Regions from separate parts of the Homo sapiens genome. Here all the other regions are reported to be linked to region 3. Evidence: microRNA targets listed by miRTarBase, many of them from high-throughput screens and not tested one by one. Region 3 holds a microRNA gene; each other region holds the end of a gene's coding sequence.
The links. Region 3 holds the annotated microRNA hsa-miR-455-5p (UAUGUGCCUUUGGACUACAUCG, at 2,779-2,800, shown strand). A microRNA usually pairs through its seed, bases 2 to 8, with sites in the 3' UTR of a target mRNA and lowers its output. Matches are read on the target gene's strand: a 7mer-m8 pairs with bases 2 to 8, a 7mer-A1 pairs with bases 2 to 7 and ends in A, and an 8mer does both.

Region 1: the mRNA of PRKD2 is a reported target of hsa-miR-455-5p. The part of its 3' UTR that is shown has no 7-base or 8-base seed match.
Region 2: miRTarBase lists CCNI as a target of hsa-miR-455-5p. Seed matches in the 3' UTR shown: 7mer-A1 at 486-492.

Annotation. Positions count from the first base shown.
Region 1 is chr19:46,671,202-46,675,201 of GRCh38, forward strand. It overlaps PRKD2 (protein kinase D2), which reads right to left. Exons shown (of 18, transcript NM_016457.5): 17 at 3,832-3,917; 18 at 3,115-3,534. The coding sequence ends at 3,322. All of the region lies in intron 2 of DACT3-AS1 (DACT3 antisense RNA 1), which reads left to right. Among named protein-coding and RNA genes, the nearest start is that of DACT3, 12 kb to the left of the region's middle.
Region 2 is chr4:77,044,524-77,048,523 of GRCh38, reverse strand. It overlaps CCNI (cyclin I), which reads left to right. Exons shown (of 7, transcript NM_006835.3): 7 at 1-1,369. The coding sequence ends at 305. Among named protein-coding and RNA genes, the nearest start is that of CCNI, 29 kb to the left of the region's middle.
Region 3 is chr9:114,206,671-114,210,821 of GRCh38, forward strand. MIR455 (microRNA 455) reads left to right here and starts at 2,764; the gene lies at 2,764-2,859. It overlaps COL27A1 (collagen type XXVII alpha 1 chain), which reads left to right. Exons shown (of 61, transcript NM_032888.4): 11 at 3,005-3,058.

The sequences.
Region 1 (4,000 bases), not on the chromosome of region 3:
TTGAGGTTGAGTGCAGTGGCCCACACCTGTAATCCCAGCACTTTTGAGAGGTGGAGGATCGTTCAACCCCAGGAGTTCAAGACCAGCCTCGGCAACATAGTGAGACCCCATCTCTATAACAAATAAAAAACATGCCCGGGCACGGTGGTTCATGCCTGTAATCCCAGCACTTTGGGAGGCCGAGGTGGGCAGATCACTTGAGGTCAGGAGTTCGAGACCAGCCTGGCCAACATGGCAAAACCCCTTCTCTACTAAAAATACAAAAATTAGCTGGGCGTGGTGGCATGTGCCTGTAGTCTTAGCTACTTGGGAGGCTGAGGTGGGAAGATCACTTGAGCCCAGGAGGTTGAGGCTGCAGTGAGCTGTGATCATGCCACTGCACTTTGGCCTGGGCAACAGAGCAAGATTCCATCTCAAAAAATAATAAAATAATAAAAAAATTAAAAACTACATAAAAAACAAAAAATTAGCGAGGTGTGGTGGCTCATGCCTGTAGTCCCAGCTACTCAAGAGGCTGAGGGGGAGGATGGCTTGAACCCTGTAGTTTGAGGCTGCAGTGAGCTACGATCATACCACTGCACAGAAGCCTGGGTGATAGAGCAAGACCCTGTCTCTAACAAACAAAATTAGGTTTTGTGATTCCAGTGGTCCTGATAGGATAAACTTTTTGTCTCTAATGATTTAAGTTATAGGGCCCTAAGTTTTCATTGTATGGATTTGATTTTTTTTTTTTTTTTTGAGACAGAGTTTCGCTCTTGTTGCCCAGGCTGGAGTGCAGTGGCACGATCTCAGCTCACCGCAACCTCCGCCTCCCAGATTCAAGCGATTCTCCTGCCTCAACCTCCCGAGTAGCTGGGATTACAGGCATGTGCCACCATGCCCGGCTAATTTTGTATTTTTAGTAGAGACGGGGTTTCTCCATGTTGATCAGGCTGGTCTCAAACTCCTGACCTCAGATGATCCACCCACCTCAGCACTCAAAGTGCTGAGATTACAGGCGTGAGCCACTGCGCCCGGCCTTGATTTTATCTTTCATGGCATCCTCATGATATACACTATCTCCTGGAATTCTATAATTGAGGAATGTTTTTGAATCACGTCTCTCATTTCTGGTCTCTGGATATTAACTAGTGGCCAAGACAGAAGCAGATCAGGGGTGATAGTCTTTTCCATACATTTTCTAGCCTGGGTCTGTCACGGGAGATGGATTCATCTCTATGTTGCCTACACTTCTGGACCTTAGACTAAACAGAGGGATAGGCACTGGGGATGGAGTCTAAGAGCCTTTCCCCAATAGTCTTAGCAACTATGCCTCAGAGGTATACTGCTCCTTTGGATACCTTCATTTACTGAGGCTCGTTTAGCATTTTCAAATCAAAGAGCTGCATTTTGGCCAGGCGCAGTGGCTCATGCATGTAATCCCAGCACTTTGGGAGGCCTAGGCAGGCAGATCGCTTGAGCCCAGGAGTTTGAGACCAGCCTGGGCAACATGGTAAAACCTCTGCAAAAAATCCAAAAAATTAGCTGGGCATGGTGGCATGTGCCTGTAGTTCTAGCTACTCAGGAGGCTGAGGTGGGAGGATCACTTGAGCCCAGAAGGTCAAGGCTGCAGTGAGCTGTGTTCATGCCACTGCACTCCAGCCTGGGAAACAGAGACCCTGCCTCAGGAAAAAAAAAAAAAGCTGCAGCTCTGGAACCATCAGATGGACAAGGTGATACAAATCAAATTGGAAAATCCCAGAGTAAGCTCCCAGTATTAGCCTAAATTGGCTACTAAATTCTTTCCTGTTTTCCTGGGTTTTTTAAGGCTGTGTTGCCCAAACTGGACTCGAACTCCTGGACTCCAGCGATCCTCCCACCTCAGCCGCTTAAGTAGCTGGGAATACAGTCACCCGCCACCATGCCCAGCTTTCAGATAGGTCTTTGCAGCACGTAAGTCAGAGCGTTCTGAAAGTCTGAAGAAAACTTGTTCAGGTCCATGCTCGGATCGTTCACCTTCAGCTGTGGAAGGTGGAGGACCATGTGTTAGGGTGTTACTGGAGAACTGGGGAGGTGGAGGGCTGGAGTCAAAGGTAGAGAGAGGTGGATACGTGTTCCCTCCAGTTCATTCCCTCTGCCTTCAGTCTTTCAAGGCCAAGATGAAGCCTAAGAGGTCACCTCTGATTCCCCACTCTCTCTGACCCCTGAGCTCATTCTAGGCTGCCCAAGCCTCCCAAACTCCCCCAGTCCAGCCCTTCCCGTTCTGGGTCATCACTGTCCAGGGGCAGGTATGTCTCTCTACTGGCAGGGCAGTCCTTGGCTGTCTCAGTCACCACTGTGTCCCCAGCATCACCCAGCTCAGTGACACAAAGGAATGAGTGAATATATACTTCTCTATTTCATAGATAGAGAAGTCATCACATCAACATAAAATAAAATACTGAATGTTACGTATCAGTTTTCTAGTATGGATCAGACTTGGGCTAACTGCATTTTATTATTTGACTTTTGAGACAGGGTCTCACTCTCTTGCCCAGGCTAGAGTGCAGTGGTGTGTGATCTTGGCTCACTGCAATCTCTGCTTCCTGGGCTCAAGCGATCCTCTAGCCTCAACCTCCAAGTAGCTGGGACCACAGGTGCAAGCCACCACACTTGGCTAATTTTTGAACTTTTTGTAGAAAGGGAGTTTCACCACGTTGGCCAGGCTGCTCTCAAACTCCTGAGATCTAAGGGATCTGCCTGCCTCGGCCTCCCAAATTGCTGGGATTATAGGCATGAGCCACCACACCCAGCCTGAATTAATAGTTGTGATTAGTAGTAACACCACCACCAAATAAAAAATCAGTCATCACAAACCATGAGATTACTTTTTCTCCAAGTTCTCTACCCTCCAGTCACATTCCTTCCATCTCTCCCCAGTTTCCAACTCCTCCTCCATTACTCCTCCCTCTCCCTTCTCATCTTCTCTCCTGGCACTCTTCCTGTATATTTTCTACCCCAGCTCGTCCTCCTTCCAAGACTCCTCTCCCATCAGTCCTCTCTCCCCACCCCTTCCATCCTTCCTCTTTTCAGGCAGTCCTCCTTCCAGATGAACTCCATGTTGGTACAACAGAGTAATGATTCGAGAGTGCCGTGTGCTGAGATCAAGGCCATGGGGCCAGAGATGAGTCCGTTTTAATTGCTGGGGAAACAGGGAGGGGCCTTGGAAATAGCTCCCCCCACCCCACTCCCCACGTGTCCCATCCAGTTTGGGCAGGAAGCCACTTTCCCTAGAACAGTTCATTGCTGGGATCCTGTGAAGAACCGCTGTGGAGGGCAGCAGCTGGACGAGGGCACAGGACCTCAGAGAACACTGATGCGCTCCGCCAGCCCCTGCATGTCGTGGTCCTGTGGTGGACAGGCCCCACCGAGATCCCTGTCCGTGGGCAGCCCAGACCCAGGCAGCGGATGCTCTGCTGCAAACTGCTCCCAGCGCGCGTCGTCACTCTCATGCGTGATGTATCGCTCTCCCATCTTCCCCTCCAGCTCTCGGAGGTCCAGCCACGTCTGGTACTCCTGGGCCCGAGAGAACTGGGGTTAGCTTGGGGTCTGCATTGGAGCAGTGCCTGGATATCCTCTGGTTTGCCACTGAGAGCTGGGTACCAATGAAGGTGAAGCCATACCCTCTGCAACCCACCCAGCCAGTAGACATTTAGCTCCACCCCCTCTTCCTGCACCCAGCCAATGGGAGGCCTAGCCACATTCCAGACCCAAGGAAACCTACATCCTTCACAACCTGCCTAGCCAATAAGCGATCTACTCCCACCCCTTCCTCCAATCCAGCCAATGGGCCAGCCCTGCCCCCTGCATCACCTGTAACCAGGGGTGGCTGAGAGATTTGTCCACGCTGTAGCGTTTGCGCATCTTCACCTGCAGCAGGTTGTTGATGAGGTCAATGGCTGCACAGGAAAGAGAAACAGGTCAAGCCCTACAGGTCAAGGGTCACTCCTCCTCCAATAGGCACCCCCTAGCCTACCTGCCT
Region 2 (4,000 bases), not on the chromosome of region 3:
TCAGATTACATCCCTCCTCTGTCCCAGGCCCAGACTTCTCCAAGGACAACAGCAAGCCAGAAGTGCCAGTCAGAGGTACAGCAGCCTTTTACCATCATCTCCCAGCTGCCAGTGGGTGCAAGCAGACCTCTACTAAACGCAAAGTAGAGGAAATGGAAGTGGATGACTTCTATGATGGAATCAAACGGCTCTATAATGAAGATAATGTCTCAGAAAATGTGGGTTCTGTGTGTGGCACTGATTTATCAAGACAAGAGGGACATGCTTCCCCTTGTCCACCTTTGCAGCCTGTTTCTGTCATGTAGTTTCAACAAGTGCTACCTTTGAGTGTAAACTAAGGTAGACTACTTTGGGAATGAGAACATGCAAAATCAGGAAAGGCTGTAGAAGGAAATATACCTTAACAGGCTGATTTGGAGTGAGCCAGAAAAAAAAAATAAAACTCTCATTATTTGTGTGGCTAATTATAATTCAGCGTTATTTAAGCACATAAAGACCAAAAAAAAAAAAAAGAAATCCAAAAGATCCAAACTTTTTTTAAACTTAAAAAATCTCTTTGTAGTATGTCAGTTGCACTTTTTTTCTGCCATAATGTAACGTAGCTTGCCCCGTCAAAAATTCAATTAAAATTCATGGCCAGCAATCCTGTTCCCCCTCAGCATCCTGATTTAATTTTCCTGTTGCTTTTGCTTGCTTCTCCATTTAATAGTTACTGAACTTTATGCATGTTGATCTATATTGATTTTCACTGCAGTTGAATGAACAAATTATTTCAGTGTGACAGCCATGACTCAAGTTCCAATTAGTCTGAAAAGGGTACTTTGGAATTGTCCCATATTAATCAGAGATGGCAAAAGAAAAAGTTCTCATATTACCAGGTTGATTTTGTGTCTCATTTCAAATTTTAATTTAAAATTATGGTTTTCATTTTTGTTTACCTTAAAGTGATGCTTAAAAGTGGCATGTAATTAGGACACTTAGGTTTGTTGAAAGCATTTTCGACATTTGTATAAAAGAATTTGTGATAAATATATCCAGGTGCTCACCAAAGAAACATGTATTAACAACTTAAATTAGATTTTTCTAACTGATAGTTTTCACTCATTTATAATCAGTAGGAGAGACTGTCTAGATGTTGGGGCAGCTCTATGATTTAAGTCTGTAACATGTTATAACTGAATTTAGTACCCTAGTTTTGTTAAGCTATTAGGATTTTCTAATAGAACTTACTCCCCCTGCCTCCCCAGCCTTATGTTTCTTTTAATGACTTCTGGATCCTGAGCTCCCTTTGCAGTCTGAAAAAGGTATTGCAGTCAGAACTGTGTACTGATGATAAAAGCCTCTGGTAGCAATAAAAAGTTGTCCTTAACTTTTGTTTTTGTGACTTTTTTCTGGTTGTGAAGAGGTACAGGTTCCTGATTGGCTAGGCACTGCTATTTCAACTAGAGAAAACAATAGAAAGACCAAGAATACACTTACTGAAAATAAAACATGAAGAGGATCTGAATGTGATCGAGGGATATAGGTTTTAGACATAAGAATTTTTCTTTCGTGATATTTTTTCACTGGTGCACTGTGAATCCTCCAAATAGTAAATTTACATCTTAATGTGACTGCTTGTGAGAGTAGGCTCAGACCCCTATCTTTAAAATGTCATTTTTAGCCATTTTGTAATGTTCAGATTTAGCAGAACAAGAGTATTTTCAGGTCATCATCTGATTTGTAAAAAATTCTTGTGGTAGGGTTGACTTACCTGTTTTATGACCTTAAAATCCAATTAAATGGGAAGCATTTACTCACATGTCAGTAAAGGGAGTGGGAGGGAAGATAGCAAAGGATTGGCTTCACAGATAGACATTTTAAAAATTTCTCATCCTGATCTTCATCTGTTTAATTCATCTGAATTGTAGGAGCTCTAAGAAGTTTACAACTGCATATGTTCATAGTATCTGTAAAATGATACAGATACTATGAAACTTCCTCCTATTTAACAGATGAGGACATAGTTGTGTTATGTAGACAGCTAGGGATAAAACTGAGTTTAGAGTCAGTATTTCATTTGTAGTCCAGTAGCTGCAAATTGAGCAGAATGTTAGAGGACAATAGGATTTTCACTTTTCAGTCTTAAGGTTTTCAACATTTACAAATTGCTGGTAAGTTAGTTTGGAACACAGCATTCTTCTCATGGGACACCGAATCAAGTGGGATAGTGGGCTGCTAGCCCTCATGCCTCAGAGCTTATTTAACCCATCGTTCAGTTCAGTGATAGTTTTGGAGACCTGGCCCTCAAAAGCACTGTTAAACCTTGGCCACCATTTCAGAGGACTGAGCCCACTTCCTCACAACTTACTGTGGGCCCTTAGAGAACTGTGGCTTGTGACAGAAAGAGCCTAGTATTCTTGAACAGTGTAGAACTTTTCATTAAGAATGTTCCGGTCGGGTGCGGTGGCTCACGCATGTAATCCCAGCACTTTGGGAGGCTGAGGCAGGCGGATCACGAGGTCAGGAGTTCAAGACCAGCCTGACCAACATGCTGAAACCCCATCTCTACTAAAAAATACAAAAATTAACCAGGTGTGTAATCCCAGCTACTCGGGATGTTGAGGCAGGAGAATCGCTTGAACCCAGGAGGCGGTGAGCCGAGATCGTGCCATTGCACTCCAGCCTGGGCAACAGAGGAAGACTATCAAAAAAAAAAAAAAAAAAAAAAAGTTCCTGCTGTTCAATTAGTTCCTTTTACCTGAAACTATTCTCAGCCTGTCCCAAGTTACTTGTGTTAAACTTTGGCATCACATCACAAACTCAAGATCCAGAAACTTGAGCACTCTGCATCATAATTGTCTTGTGCCTCCTGGTGGTTAAAAAACCTGTCGCTCCGTGAAGCCTCTGGAAAGGCAAGGGAATATACTTGATGGGGATAGTAGTTATTCTCTAATCCTCCATTCAACCAAAAAAAAAAAAAAAAAAAAAAAAACCTAAACATGTTCTAGCCCTTGAAGATCAGACTGGAAGCTAAATATTTTACTTCTTCATTCTCTACGAGATGAATATAAAGTTAGTTATATAGAGAACTATAAGTTTTCTCTACAGATAGACGATGTATTAGTTTGGAGGGAGAAGGGAAAGCTGGGAACGCAGAATGCTCCCAAATGTCAGTAAAAGGTCAAATATGACCAGTTTGTCATAAATGTTCCTGATGCTACCTTTGGCTGTGAAGGAAGGTAGAATGTAGCTCTTCACTCAGCCAAGTTGAAGAGAATCTGAACCTATGTTCTTGAGAGAATTAAGACACTGGTGTTTGTGCCCCCAAGAAATACTATGTATTTTCTCCTGTGTTATTAGAGTCAGCCACTTGTGTGTGTCCTCTGTGCTCTTTACAAACCTGAATTTTCAAGCTATTAAATTTACTCCTAGATTTCCTGAAGCAAGTTATGCTTGAGCATTAGTGCCCAAAGCAGCATGGTGGCTTTTCACTTGAGAAGAAAATGTGGTTAAGCTACTGATGTACAGCCAACATGATGAGGAGCTTATCTTTATCTAAAGTAGTTTGCACATTTTCAACTGGAAAGCGAAGATACTATGTCACAGGTTCTCACAACCAACCTGGCAGAATGCATCCCCAGTTTAACAGGGTTCAACTTCTAACTCATCTCAAACGTTTACCCTTTCTATTTGACATCATGAAGTTTTGTCTAACATGTAAATGTTACTTCTAAAGCCTCGAAAATTCTTTCAGTCTTTATGTTGAGGAGAATGTCTCCTATACCTGTTATCAAATAATGCTATGAGTTTTGGCCACTAGATGGTGCTTTTAGAAAAATACAGCATCTTTTTCAATTTCTGGGAGAAATTGAGTTGAGTTTACTGTATGTTAGTGAGCAGTTGAACACTCATCTGGTTGCTGAGCCAACTGTGTTGGCTTAGTTAGAAGTTCATATTACTTAAGGTACAGGAGGCCTGTGTGTGTGAGAGACAGGGAACTTTGGCAAGATCAGCCAGG
Region 3 (4,151 bases):
GAGGGCTGGGGGGAACCACTCTTTGTGGAGGGCACCTGGTGTGGGAATGCTGCCCAAGCCTGCAGCCTGGTGGAGTTTCCAGATCTCCCCTTCCTTCAAGGCCCCCATGGAGCAGACCCCGAGTAGCGATCAGCCTCAGTTGCCTACCTCTACAATGGTCATGATGTCCATTTGTACCTCTAGTCTGGTTATGTCAAGCTGACTTGACAGCTCAGGAGGGGGCCACCAGGTGGGGACTCCCATGTGGGTTGTGGGAAGACAGAGAGGGTTCTGGGTGGACCGAATGGGGTAAATGGAGTTGGAAAGATTTAGAGCTGATGTGGTGGAATCGTTTCTTTTACACACAAAGAAACTGGGTTCATGGCGGGGCCTGGATGGCCCCAGCTTACACTGCACGCCTAAGGCGGATCTGGGATGGGGACCCAAGTCTTCCGAGGCCTGGACTTGCTGCCTCTCAAGGAATGCTCAGGAAGGGGGTCACACAGTCCTCGGTCAGGACAGATCACGTATCCTTTGCTCCTGAGCCAAAGCTATTTATATTTTGGCAGGAGGGAGAGGACAGAACAGTTGCAGTCTCAGCCCTAATCCCTGCAGCTGACTGGTGGCTGTTAGGAGAGTGTGGGGAGGCGGGAGTGGGGGCGGGGAGGTGCATTCCCCAGGAGGTTACTGTGACAGGCAGGGCCTAAGGAGGCTCTTGTCCCAGGGTGCTGTGCCTCTCTTCCTTTATTCTGCTGCTCCCATGGGCCATTCCCCCAGAGGGACCCCCTAAACCCAAGGAGAAAGGTCTTCTCAGTCCAGCCCCAGTCCTGATCTCCTGACCTGCCAGAAGGACAGGCATGTTAATGACATCTGGGGTTGCTCGACTTGCCTGCCAGGCTGGTGGCATCTCAAAGTCACATAGCAGGAGAGGACTGGTCTGGCCCCAGCACTCCTGTCTCTTACAGGCCACACAGCCCTGGGTGGGAAGCCTGGATGAGCAGTGAGTCACTCAAGCTGCCCTTCCAACCCTGCCACCACCAGCCTCATATTTCTGAAGTAGGCAGAGGGCAGGCTTTGGAATCAGGATGACAGGCTTTGAGACCTGCCCTGCCATTAGCTAGCTGTGGGAGCTTGGGCAAGTCACTGGGCCTCTCTGAGCCAATTATTTTCTCACCTGTAAATCTGGGAGATAAGCACTATTTGGAATGGCAGTAAATGGCACTCTTTCAGATTATGGATATTAATCATGCTGGATGCCAACGAGGAGGCTCAGTGGCTTCTTGGCCTTCCAGGGAAGGAGAGATGGTTGTGAGCCTCCATTGGTTGCTTGTTTGAGGAGAGGCAGTATGCAGAGTGGTTAGGAGCCCAGGCCCAGGAGTCAGAAGACTTGAATTTGAATACCAGTTCTACCACATTTCAGCTGTTTGGTCCTAGGCAAGTTGCTTCACCCCTCTGGGCCTAAATGGTCTTACCTCTACAGGGGGCTGAGTAATAATACTTCCTCAGGGCTGGGCGCGGTGGCTCGTGCCTGTAATCCCAGCATTTTGGGAGGCCAAGGCGGGTGGATCACCTGAGGCCAGGAGTTCGAGACCAGCCTGGTCAACATAGCGAAACCCCGTCTCTACTAAAGTAACTACAAAAATTAGCTGGGCGTGGTGGTGCACACCTGTGATCACCTGTGATCAGCTATTCAGGAGACTGAGGCAGGAGAATCGCTTGAACCCGGTAAGCAGAGGTTGCAGTAAGCCACGATCGCACCACTGCACTCCAGCCTGGATGACAGAGCAAGACTCCGTCTCAAAAAATATATATAAATAAAAAAATAATAAAATATAATACTTCCTCGGGGTGTGATAAGGATGGAATAAATGCTTTAATATATGCAAAGCACTGGCAGCAGGCCTGGCCTATCATTCGTGCTCAATAAACATTAGCTTTTGTTAGAGTTATTATTAAATCATTCCACCAAGAGTGGCACGCAGATAGTGGTAGAAGCCCCGGGCGAGGTTACTGCCCTTTAGAAGTTCCCAGGCTAATGAGGACGTGAAGCATGAACACAAATAATGAAGATACAAGGGAGAAAGTGGAGAAGGATGCTACCGAGGTGCAAAAATGGCACTGGGGATGGGGGGGAGAGATTGCTTCCGGCTTGGGGTATCAGGGATGCTTGCCCAAGGAGAGCGCTTATGAGAGCTGGGCTTTGAAGGATTTGGCTCAGAAGTCATGAGGGATGGGAAGGACATGCCTGGTGGAGGGGACAGAGTGAGGAAAGGCTGGGAGGGAGGAAATGAGATGCATCCTAGGGAAGAGCCCCAGAATGGTGACGAGCCCCAGCTGTGGAGTCAGCTGGCCCTGGGTGACCCTTGAACTGATTAGGAATTCCCGAAGAGAATTCACAGCTCCACTACTGACTAGTCGTGTTGCTTTATCTACAGAGCCTCAGTTTCTTTGTCTGTCCAGTGTGGGTGGTGACAATCTGGGGGGTCCTTGTGAGAGTCTAATGTGGTAGCATGCATGTGCCTGGCACAATGTTGGCACTCCGGGTTCGCAGCCGCTGTTAGTTAATGCCAGCACTCAGGCGGCCAGAGGTGGATGTAAGCCCTACATCCAGGACCTTGAAGGCCTAGGAGGAGCCATGGCAGGAGCCACGGGCACCTACCAGCATCCCTGGGGGTGGGCAGGGCTTGGTGCCGTGCTAGCATCTAACCCAGCCGCGAGCTTCCTTCTGCAGGTCCTGGAGCCCTGGCGTGGGGCGGGCCTCCTGCCGGCGAGCGCCTGCGCCCTTCCCTGGCGTGAGGGTATGTGCCTTTGGACTACATCGTGGAAGCCAGCACCATGCAGTCCATGGGCATATACACTTGCCTCAAGGCCTATGTCATCGAGGAGCCACCGGAGCTGCCACTGCCACCAGGGAGGAAGAGGAGGAGCCGGGATGTGGGATGGCAGTGGTGGGTGGGCTGCGGCAGGTTGGGCCAGCCACACCTCACTGCTTGACCGCTCTGACCCCCTTTCTTCTCTTTCCTAGGGCTACATTGGGCTCCCAGGGCTCTTCGGCCTGCCAGGGTCTGATGGAGAACGAGTAAGTTTGCTTCTTTGGTTATTCACCATCCACAGCCACCCCTGCCCAAACAGAGCAGAACCTGCCAGGCACCAGCCTGGGGAAGTCAAGGAATTCCTCCTGGAGGAGGTGCACTTGAGTCGAGTAGGAGTCTGATAAGGGGACAAGTCAAGGCAGATGCATTCCAGGCATAGGGAACAGCATGTGCGAAGTCAGGGATTTACGGTAACTTGGCGAGTTTAACACTCAACACTGCCAAAGTGCTGCGTGAGAGGGTGAGAGTGGTGGGAGTTGAGGCTGGAGAGGACCCTGGGGCAATGTCTTAGGTGCCCAGGACTAAGGTTAGAAAAGGAACTCTGTTCTGAGGGTATGCGGAGCCTCTTGAGGACTTGCAACCAATGAACACCGGGCCCACTTTATAATATAGATCAGGGGTCTGCAAACGGTGGCCCATGGGCCAAATCCAGCCAGTTGTCTGTTTTTGCAAACAGTTTTATTGAACTCAGCCTTGCTCATTTGGTTACATATTGTCAATGCCGCTTTCTCACTACAATGGCAGAGTTGAGTAGGTGTGACAGAGACCGTATGGCCCACAGAGCCAAAGATATTCACTATCTGCCCCTTTCCAGAAACCATCTGCTGATTCCTCTTTTAGACAGATCAGTTGGTTTACTTGAGTAAAATGTGTTGGTTGGGGGTGGGGACAGCAAGAGCAGGTGGCAGGAGTTCCAGCAGCCAGGGGGAGCGGCTGTCTGGGGAAGGTGGTGGGACTGGTTTGGTGGTGGGCAGTGGGTGCTAAGATTTCCTAAGACACCCTGTCCTTCCAGACCAAGTATCTAAGTCAGAGGAGTCCAAAAGATGGTGTGGGAGCTTCTCACAGACCCCTGGCCCAGCCTGGAGGTCCATTAGAAGCCCCTGGGGTGGTGGCCTCGGGATCTTCCTCCCCGCCCCCTCCCAACCTGAGCCCGTATCTATGGGAACTCACTTGTAACCTCCATAAGCTGGGTATAGAGAACCTTAGGACAGCTGGAGCCTGAGCATTTATGAAGCACCTGCTGATTACAGGAACTGGCATTTCTCTGTCTCTTAGGTCACCACAGACCCCGACCCTGCC